2 linked regions of the Homo sapiens genome follow. The protein of the gene in region 1 interacts with the protein of each later gene in a biochemical or structural test. Each region holds a gene or a part of one and is shown in the gene's direction. Other genes may lie near its edges.

Region 1 (3,957 bases):
GTTCTCCCATGAATTAATTAGTCCTGCAACTTATAGGGTTTCCAGAGTTATTGGGTAAACTACAGTTTATTTCCCTCTTGGAGTGTTATAATTCACTAGTAAAAGTATTTCTCTTCCAACTTCTTAGAGATCCAGCAGTGAGGTCATCTACCCTGGTTAACCACATTCATCCTTGGAGAAACACTTTATATTAAGCTTGTTTCTTATCTATGAAATGAGTGGTTTAGATCAACTTCATCTCTAGAGTACCTGTTTTCTATTTCTTTTCAGATTTTATAGATCCTGATACTTAACTTTTTTTTTTTTTTTCTGTCCCTTTATATAGAATTCTAGATGAGCTTTCCCATACAACTGTGCTTCAGGAAATCTTAAGTTTGTTTAGGTTTCCTAGTCATTCTAGGAAATTGGATATACTTCATTGTTGTGCATTATAAAATGATTAGATTAAAAAAAAAGCTTTTCCTTAAGAGAGACAGACACTGAAGAATGATGCGTATGTATGAAGGGATGGATTGATGAGGAATGTTACATGTTCAGCAAACTATTTCAGGGAGGCATATCCTTGGTTAAGTTAAAAAGTGTAAGTTCACATTTACTGAGCATCATTTACACTGTGTTGCACAAAGTTTTATTACAGAGGTATGATAAAACTTAGTGTTAATATGGCTTATTGCATGAATTTTGATGCATAGATAGATGTTCCCCAATAATTACTATTATAAAATGATTCTGTATCACAATGTAGCAGTAAATACTTTTTTTGCTTTATTATTTTATTATTTGCATTATTTTGCTCCTTAATGCAAAATAACTTTTTAAGATAACCTGTGTGAGTTTTGAACCTAAGACCGTATCTTTTGTTTGGCAGCCTTTTTTCCACTAATAGACACTTTATGGAATTAGCTGCAAGAAAGGCTCTTAGAAACCATTTAGTCCAACAGCCTCATGTTACAGATGAAAATACTGAGGCTCTGTGACAGAAAGTCACCTTTTTTTCCTCTACTAACTCTAGACTTACTCCTTTGGGGAAAAAAAACAAAAACAAAAACCTGTCTTGAGGTATGAATGATCCCTTTCCTTTTTAGTACAAGAAAATATATTTAAAATCCAGTTCAAAATAATATCTCCTTTTAGGTTATTAACATAACAATAGGGCTTTGTGTATATACTGCCAGAGTTAAGAGTTAAATATTAACCTGTTAAATTCCTGTTCAGGTTTACTTTTGGACATCAAGCCCATCACTGCCAGCCAGTGAAGAAGGATTCCAGCCTATGCCCTCAATCACAATAAGACCACCAGATGACCAACATCTTCCTACTGCAAATACTTGCATTTCTCGACTTTACGTCCCACTCTATTCCTCTAAACAGATTCTCAAACAGAAATTGTTACTCGCCATTAAGACCAAGAATTTTGGTTTTGTGTAGAGTATAAAAAGTGTGTATTGCTGTGTAATATTACTAGCAAATTTTGTAGATTTTTTTCCATTTGTCTATAAAAGTTTATGGAAGTTAATGCTGTCATACCCCCCTGGTGGTACCTTAAAGAGATAAAATGCAGACATTCCTTGCTGAGTTTATAGCTTAAAGGCCTAAGGAGCACTAGCAACATTTGGCTATATTGGTTTGCTAGTCACCAACTTCTGGGTCTAACCCCAGCCAAAGATGACAGCAGAACAACATAATTTACACTGTGATTTATCTTTTTGCTGAGGGGGAAAAAATGTAAATGTTCTGAAAATTCACTGCTGCCTTTGTGGAAACTGTTTCAGCAAAGGTTCTTGTATAGAGGGAATAGGGAATTTCAAAATAAAAAATTAAGTATGTTCTGTGTTTTCATTTTAACTTTTTTTATGGTGTTTAATTTGTGGTTGGCTGCAACTGTGTATCATGTATATGGAACTTGTAAAAAAGTTCTCGACATTCAGATCTTAAGAGATGAAATCACTTTTACCTATAAAAACCACTTTTATTGCGGTTTGACTGCATTGAGCTCTAGGATATTAAATGATATCACTAATATTTTGCATGTAATTTGCTCATTTGAGTGAGGGCACTTTTTTTGTACATATGATGGGGCCAATGCACAATACTTTTATCACAATCAACTTTTTCTTTGTATCCCTATTTCAATGAGCAGTCAGTCTCAAGAGGTTACTGCACTTCAGTTCTAACTAGACATTTGTACTAAGGTATTTCAGTTATGTAAACTCAGCCTGGGCACTTTCTGATAACTGTAAAATGTTTTATAAGATCATGATTATTGAAGATACATTTTGGAAAATTTTAAATGTTCGTGAGCAGCTTAACTACTTTTGTATCTAGCCTTTTTTAAGTATCTTGTTACATTTACTTTTTTAAATAAAGAAATTACAGAAGAAATGTCAAGTAATATTGAAGAAACAATAGTTTTTATTTATGTAGTTGTACATTTTTAAACTAAGGGCAATACACTGACATGGTTATGTGCATAAAAATTTTGACTTAAAGAACTGGAAGTTTATATACACCTGGACTATAAGAAACAGAAGAAAATCAGTCCACATTTTACAGTTAGCAGAGAATCCTAAATGGCACTGGCCTGGCCACCTTTTCATTTTACAAATGGGGGAAGTGAAGTGTGACCCCTTACTTGGCATAGGAAGTTAACTTACACCTAATAACTGACAGGTTTTTGTTTTGATGACCTATTAATTATGTAGCCTAGGATTAATATCCCAAAATTACTCTGGTTTAAGTAGCTTTATTCAGTGGCATAATAACACTGTTTTCTTCCTTAAGTCTTCAATGAAGTGACTTAAAACAGTCACTTTACATATTAAAAATGAGGAGAGCAATTCTCTGGAATCTCTCCTTTCAGTTCCTTTGTAGGATTTCTGGCCTTGAGGATAGTCTTCATGTTCAAAGGCACTATGCTTTTATTATATAACTTCCTTCAGAAGACTGAACCACATGATATTCTCAGCCCTGTTAACACTAAAAATATTTAAAACTGAATGATAGTAGTGACTCATTGTATTACTTAAAACTTATATAACACGCTGTATTAGATGTGTGTAAATTAGCCAAAGGTTATTTTACAAAGTGAGACATTGGTTTTTATGTCTAAATGCTATTTCTGAATAAATGAAATAGTAATTAGATCAAGAGCTGATTAGCATCAATGTGTTTGAAAGATATAAAATTTATACATCACCTTAACCTCTGTATGCACATGATGGGATTGATAAAATATTAAATGAGAACAAACTAGATATGATTAGGACATTTGAAACCCTAATTGTGAATTTATTTTTAATAGTTACTGAAATGAAAATATTTAAAATAATGCACAATGTCTTAAGTCTTCCTAAATCAAGATTTTGGTTAAAAAATACTTCTAATAATAGTAAAAGATTTTTTTTTTAAGTAAATCATAAAACGGTTCTAAATGTAAAATAAAGACATGTAAAATAAAGTTCTCTTTTGGTCTTGTTTAGTGTTTAAATCTAACAATTGAAAACAAATTTAGGAAGAGAAGACCAAGAATGAACTTTACTGAGTGTTTTCAGAGTTTGCTACTACTATTTTTTTCCCTAAATCATCTGGATACCAAGACTATCCAGTAAAATGGATAACTGGGGCAGACTTGAGAGGGTATTTTAAAGGAATGATTTCACTATTTAGTAGCTGCCCCCAAACAACATCCCTCCCATAAAGATACTATTTTTACATTTTAAAGGTAGTCAGCAATTCCTATGTTTAAACTCAAGTTGAGATAATCCCTTGAGGCAGTAGTTTCCATGCTTCTGTATGTTGTAAGATTCATTTGTAAAGTTTGTTAATGCAGATTCTTAAGCATTCCTCATCCTCTTGCCTCCTTTCTGATTCAGTAAGTCTTTGGTGGAGGCCAGGAATCTTCATGCAGATCATCCCAGGTGATTCTGAAACACTGCCCAAAGAATATTTCCTTTTTAT
Region 2 (7,093 bases), on another chromosome or scaffold:
CCGGACTCTCAGAACTGTTCCTGCCCTTCTTTGAGCATCTGTGACCCCTTGCGGCTGGCGCTGGGATTCGGTGGGGCTCTTTGGTGGCCCCTGGAGGGAACCCACTGTCTCTTGCCTGGAGCTGCACTGAAATCCTGGCTCTTCATTACAAACCAGCTCCTGTCCCCTTAAGCCTCACTCACCTGAACTCTTTGGCTCACGCCACCATTCAGCTCCCCAGAGTTCTGGAAGTAAGACCCCAGCTGATGACGGAGGCAGCGGCTGGCCTTCGGAGGACCTCACCTTTCTCTTCCCCTGCACTGCTTTGGGTTTGGGGTGTGCAGGGCCAGCCAGCTGACTGCTACCAGGGCAGACGCTGTCAGTGGTGACTGCCCTGCAGGCCTGCAAACATTTTGCCAGAGGGCCAGACCCAGGAGCAGAGGGGTCCTCTTCTCTTCCTCCTCCTCCCCTCCTGTCCTCTCCTCTCCCCTCCCTCCTATCCTTTCTCTTCCTCTCCACTCAGCAGAACAGACTGGAGCCCAGGTGTGGACAAGTGGCTTGAGTGTTTCCCTCTAGACTGATGGAGAGACAAGCTATGACTGAGAAAGGGGGTTCGGGCTGGGACCCCTGGGCCTAGTCCCAGTTCCATGTGGACCTGCCGGGTGGCCCCTTGCCTCTCTGAGCTTTCGGCTCTACTTCCCAGCTCGAGTCATCATCGGTCACCACAGACAAAAGGTGTTGTCCCCAAAGGAGCCACAACGGATGTGAGAGAGAGTCCCCTTAGGCTGAGGTGCTTGGGGACAGATCGGGCCACCTTGCCCAGCAGTACCCAAGCCCTTGGCCTCCCTTGTTGGAGGCTGAGCTCCCCAAACCCCTGTGAGGTCCTGCTAGTGACCAGCTCAGGACCACAGGGAACCTCTGGAAGCAGCTTAGAGCCCCGTTGGTGTCCTGGGAACTTCTGGGAGCAGTCCACCCAGACGCCAGCTTCCTCATGCTCAGCCAGCACAGAGACCAGCCTTTAAAAATATTATTCAACAAGCAATTCCCGGGACTGTTTACAAGACTGAGCCGAGACAGGCATATGAAATAGGCCAAAGTACCTTAAAAAGCGTCCCTCAGGGAAATTAAAAAAAAAAAGACCCAAACAAAAAAACAAAAAAACAAAACCTTCTTAGATCGCAGGTTGTGAATAAATGGATACTACTATAAAAATAGTTTTGGCTGTAGCAGCACATGGTGGGAAGGCTGGGGTGTTTTTTTCCATGGCTGGCTCAGACCTGGCCATTTCATATGGGGCAGCCACTATCCCGGGAGGTTTCGTGTAGAATCATTTGCACCAAAAAGCTCCAAACTGAGGGGGAGGATAAAAAGTAGTGGCCACAGAAATAACAAGCGGCATCGTCATTTTCCATCAAGGACCTGGTGTGTTTTCGGCGGCCGAGCACCCAGGCCCCTGCCCCATGGAAGAGAAGGGCGGGGCTGAGAGCCATTCACCGTCTGTGGGCACAGAGGCTGGATGTGAGCCCAGATCTGCAGGACTCCGGACTCCGTGCGCTCTCCACGTGGTCTCTAGAGCAGGGGATGACGCCTTCCGGTGTTTCTTAGGAACAGAGGGCCCTTCTGGAACCTTCAGCCTTCCCAGGAGGAACCCACATGGAAATCTGTCTGCATGTGCCTCCCCGACTCCAGGCACCAACAGCTCCTGAGTCTTGAGTTTTCAGGGACAAGGAGTGAGATGGGGGTGGGGTGGAGAGTCCAGCATGCCACACCGCCCACTATTGGGAGGTGACCTCAGACACTTCAGCCCAGCCTTCCCACCATTGCCTGGCGTGTCCTGACCTGCCGTCCGCGGCCTGCTGCTCCTTCTCTCTGCAGGCCGCTGCTCAGCCGGCCCTGCTGCCTGGGCGGCCACTGCCTGATGGAACCTCCCTGCTCCAAAACCTGACTCAAGAACCAGTGATCCCAAAAGCTGCCTGAGCCCTTTGGCTGGATAGAGCCTTGCTCTCCCTGCACTGAGCATAGGCGAACGGCCTGCCTAATTCAGCGTCATTTCATCATCATCATCATCACAATAACTGTCACACCGAGCTCGTCCTCCCGAGCGCAGACTCTCCATATTATCTCACTTAGTCATCTCAGTGACTCAGTGAGGAGGGAGTGGTTGTTCCCACTTTACAGATGAGAAAACTGAGATACAAGGAGGGAAGTGACCCAGCTAGGCCACACGGTTGGTAGGAGGTGGACCTGCAATCTGGCCCAGGCCTTGTCTATCTGGGACTCCCCCCCAACCCCCCAACCTGAGTACAGTCAGGAGGGGCCCAAGCAGTCACAGAGACAGGCCTGGAACGCGGCGGGCACATGGCACTTTTGCAGTGTATGTTGGTGCTTACGGGGGCTCTTTCTCAGTCCTATCCTTTGTTTGCCGCCCCCCTCCCTGGCAGGAGGAACTCAGTTTTAGAAGGGCAGTGGGTTGGGCCGGCATGCCATGTGCAGTGGGGAAGTGGGTCTGTTGTGGCTGTAACCACAGTGGGTGAGGACCAGGTGTCAACAGTGGCCCTCATCCCGGAGGGAGTGGGGCAGGCTGCCTGTTGGACAGGGTGTGTGAATAGGGGGACGGGGTGGCCTTTGGTAGGGGCCCAGGGGTCAGTGAAGAGGGGGAGGGGGAGAGGGCTGCCTTGGGCTCTGGCTGTGCTGGGGGTGGGCTGCCCAACCAGGGCACTTCTGTCCCAAGTGGAACCAAGACCTCCCACCGGAACAGGCCACCGGAGCCCTCGTGGAACCCAGCTCCGGGTGGCCCGACTTGAGGGGCACCCAGGCAGCAGGACACCTCTCTGGTCTCGGGCTGTTATCTTTGGGCCGTGTCATGGCTGTCCACACGCGGTCATCACCTCCTCACCTCCCTCCCCATTAGCGTCCCCTGACCCGGGCCACCACGCGCAGCCTGCGTGAATGGTCAGTCCCTGTGCCTCGCAGCCCGGGCCCTTAGGTCTAGGTGGTCAGCAAGCTCGCGGTGGGGGTGCGGAGGGAGGGCGCGGCGGGGCGCCTCGGCGCCTGCTCAGGAAGGCTGGGCTTGGCGGCGCGCAGGTAGCTCACACCCAAATCCGAATTCCAGCCGCCCGAGACGGCGGGCGGCGGGCGGCGCGCGGCGGAGGCGGCCCGAGCTGTCCCGGGGCAGGAGTGCTTCCTTTCGTTTTCAAACAAATCGTGAATTTAAAAGTCAGGCAGAGAACTACCCAGGGTATAAAAATAGCCACCGGCCACAAAGTCTGTGTCCAACTCCGGGCAGCGCCTGCCCAGCCTGGTGCCTTTGAAGAGGGGTCCCAGGAGTGCGGGTCGATGAGGAGGCGAAGCGCGCACCCCTCCTCGTTCCCGGTGGGCTCGTGGGTCTCTCCGTGGGGGTAGGGCGTGAAAGTGTGGGGTGGACCGGGGGTAGCGTCCGGAAGACGAAACCTTCCCCGGACGAGGAGCTTGTCCTCTGCCGTTGGGGCACATCGCCACTCCCGGGCCTCAGTTTCCCCACGTGTCCGCCGCGGCGGGGTGCGAGGTATGGGTGCCGCGGCCATCCCGCCCGGCTCTGCGCTTGCCTGGCCCGGGCCGGGGTCCCCTCGCGGCCACCGCCCGGCCGCTTTGTGTGGCCGCGCAGACAATGGCCCGGCCGCTGGGCTCCCGGCCCGGCTCTCCGCCTCCTCCGGGCCCTTGCGCGCAAGTGTGTGTGTGCGCGAGTGTGTGGCGGGCCCGGGGAGGGAGTTCTGCTCCCGCCCCCGCCCCCGCCCCGCTCCCTCTGCGCCCCGCCCCCTCCCACGCCGCCTCCTCGCGGCTCCCGGGAACCCCTGGCGGAGGCGAACTCGCAAGTTTGCACGGCGCTCTCAACTCGGCGGCCGGGCGGGCGGCGATCGCGGGGCGGCGGCGGCGGAGGGGGGCGCGCTCCGGGCGGGGCTGGGCGGGCGGGGCGCGGGCCGAGCGGTGGCGGCGGCGCTGCGCCGAGTCAGCGCCCGTCGCGGGCCCCCCGCCACCCCCCCGCCGGCGCCGCAGCGCCGCGGTCGGAGCGGGGCGCGGGCGCGCGGCGGCGGGGGCGCGGGCCGGGCGCGCGCGGCGGCGGCGCGCAGACACAAGTAGTTTACATTGTTGGGCGACTTTTGCAACAACTCGCCGCGCCGCGGCCTCCGCGCGCCGCCGCCGCCACCGCAGCCGCCGGCTCCCCGCCGCCCGGGCCCGGGCCGGCCGCGCCGGGGGCCGCCGCGCCCGCCGCCCGCTGCCTGCGCCGCCGGCCGGGCATGAGTTAGTCGCAGACATGGACACCAAACATTTCCTGCCGCTCGGTGAGTGCTCGCCGGGCCGGGCGGGGACGGGGCCGGGGGCCGGGGGCCGGCGGGCGGGAGGGGGCCGGGGGCGCGTTGGCGGCGCGCGCGGGGGGTCGCCGGCCCGGGCCCCGCTCGGACCCCTCGCCGACCTTCGCGTGAGTTCGGGCGCCGGGCCCGGGGAGGGTCGACCCGGGGCAACTTTTCGCGGGGCCGGGGCGGGGCTGGGCAGCGGGCGGGCGGCGGGGCCGGGGGGCGGGTGGCAGGTTCGCCCGGGACGAGGAGGGGTCTCCCGCTCACCGGCGGCCGCCTGCGCCCCGGCGCCCAGCTGCAGCCGCGCCGCACAGGAACCCGGCCGGAGCGGGAGGAGCAACTTCTGCGCTCCGCGGCTCCGGCCTCCCTGGCCTGGGGACCGGGACGGCGCGCTGGGCCCCGAGCGGCCTCTGCGCCGCCCGCCCGTCGGGCTGCGGCTTCTAGCAGGCCGCTGGCCCTTGGGTGTGTGTCCGCCCAGGAAACAGACTGGGACCCTGTTATCCCCAAAGCAGCCCACGCCCGGGTGGGCAGGGTCCCCCGGGGCTGTATGAACAGAACGTCAGACCTGGGAAGGCCCCATTCCAGAAATGGGGCCCCTCACTCTGGCACCCCCGGGTGTTCTCCCAGGCTGGCTCTCCATTTGTGAGCAGGACAGCGCAGAGGCGCGTAGGGTCAGTTTCCCTCCTCCTCCTGCCATCCCGCCCGGTAGCTTCCTATCCCAGACTGCCCGCCAACTCCAGGCCCAGACCTACCGAGAAGGGGGAGAGGGCATGGCTGGGGCCCCCACCCATTGCCCTCCCAAGGGTTTGGAAGCTAGTGAGAAGGGGGAGACTTTATAAATTAGCTCCGGGAAGGATATTAATTTGGTGGTGGGACGGCAGCCAGGCTGTCAGGCCGGGTGAAGGATTTGTGCTGAATGGAAATCGAAACAGCTGATTATGAATGAAGCCCCCGCCATCCGTAGCCCCTCCTGCCCACCCTCCCTGCAGCCTGGGGTGCAGCTTGGCCACCCCAGGAGGTGCTCAGAAGCCAATGTAGCTGCAGGGATGTTTAGTGAGATGGGGCATCAAGGGGAGCCAGCATGGACCTAGCCCCTCCTGGATGTGAGGGTGAGAGTCTGAGTACCTCTGCTACTCACAGGCAGGTGTGCTGCCCCGTGACCGGGGCAGGCGGTGGGTTCCAGGTTTGTCAGACCTAACGCTTACTCCCTGCCTCTGTCATGATGGAGTGGTGGGCTCGAGGCCTTGAATGAGCTCCAGGGCTCAGCCTCCAGGGGTGGGCGCTCATGCCCATTTTGCAGATGAGAAAACTGGCTGGGAGAGGCTGAGCCCCCAGGATACAAGGTGGTGGATTTGGGATTAGCACCCCCAGCTCGTGGTACTGCTGAGTGTGAGGCAGGAGGGAATGCTGCGCTGTCTGTGACCGAGTGCAGTGTGGAGTGGGCTGGGGCTGCCTTTCCCTGTTAAAGCTTTGCACTCACACATGTGCACACACACATCCACACACACAGAGCTAGGCTCTCCCAGACGATTCCTCTGGAACAAGAATGCTCAGCTCAGTGTCTGGCCCCTGGACGTGGCAGGGGCCTGGCTGGTTGCACTTCAGCTGAGTACTGAGAACCGAACAGGTCCCTGTTTCTAATGCTCCGGGTGGGACAGGGATAGTCCACGGAGTTGGTGGATGTAGGGCGAGGGAGCAAGGGGTGCCCAGTCGCCATGGTGGCTTGCTGGAGTCCCTGTGAGGAGGAGAGGTCGTGCCTCCGAGCCACTGCCCCAGGGATCTCCCTGGGCACTCCCCTGCCACAAGGAAGCTAGGAGTCTTCTGTTCTCGAGCAGCAGCTCTCCCGACCGGCCCATGGCCTCCCAGGCAGCCCACGCCCCAGGGCTGAGCAGAGAGCCCTGGGCTCTGATTACATTTTATTTTTTTTCTAAGCTTGTGACCAGCTCTGAAGTCCAGAGCAGTCGAAGGTCCATTTAAGCGGCTACTTTTCTAAGCCCTTTTGTCAACACAGCCTAATCCCTCCTCGGGGTGAGTGGTGGTGGAGGGCCTGGCTTGTCTTGGCCCGGCTGGCCGACCGGTCAGACCTGGAGCTGCTGGGGAGACTCGGCCACCCCTTACAGCTGCCCAGCCGCTTTTGGGGTCTGGGGTAGAGAGGGCTTCCTCCTCCCAGCATTCACTACCGCTGGGCTTGGTGGGCAGGGAGAGGATCCCAGTCGGTGTCCACCGAGCCGCTCAGTGAGGGCAGGGATGAGTGCAGCGTCCAGATCTGGAAGGAAAGCAAGGCCGAGGGACTCGCCAGAGGCAGCCCCAGCTTCCTGGCCCTGCTGCCCGGGGCTGGCCGCGCTCCCACGCCTGCCGGGGAGAAGGCCCCCGCTGGCCTTATCCTGAATGGTGGGACTCAGGCGGAGTCCACAGAGTCCAAAGGTCTCAGACCACACCAGACCCCATGCGCCTGTGGAGAGACCCGGTGGCAAAGCTGTAGGCCCGCTGACCACTCTTGGAGTTGGGGCACTTGGGGGCCTGGGTGAGCTTGCAGCCTGTGTGAGGGGCTTCTGGTAACATCAGAGCCCTTGGGACCCAAAATAGAGCACATTCCGGGGCCTCCCGAAATAACAGGGTCATGTGACTCTCAGGAGGCTGGGCTTGGAGTCCCGCTCGGGCCTGACGAGGGCGTCTTTTAGCGCGGGCGCTGCCCGACGGCAGGGTGTTTGTTTTGGTAAACTCTGGAGGGGCCCTGTTTGTTGACTGGGGAGGTGTCAGGGAGAGAAAAATGGCCCAGTCCG

The links.
Region 2: the proteins of UBR5 (region 1) and RXRA form a complex in vitro, tested with the Homo sapiens proteins (one study listed by BioGRID).

The regions. Positions count from the first base shown.
Region 1 is NC_000008.11:102,251,773-102,255,729, reverse strand, and holds the end of UBR5 (E3 ubiquitin-protein ligase UBR5), read left to right. Parts: intron 1-1,215; coding exon 1,216-1,428; 3' UTR 1,429-3,457; downstream 3,458-3,957. UniProt on the Homo sapiens protein: E3 ubiquitin-protein ligase involved in different protein quality control pathways in the cytoplasm and nucleus. Mainly acts as a ubiquitin chain elongator that extends pre-ubiquitinated substrates.
Region 2 is NC_000009.12:134,322,362-134,329,454, forward strand, and holds the start of RXRA (retinoic acid receptor RXR-alpha), read left to right. Parts: upstream 1-4,093; 5' UTR 4,094-4,270; coding exon 4,271-4,298; intron 4,299-7,093. UniProt on the Homo sapiens protein: Receptor for retinoic acid that acts as a transcription factor.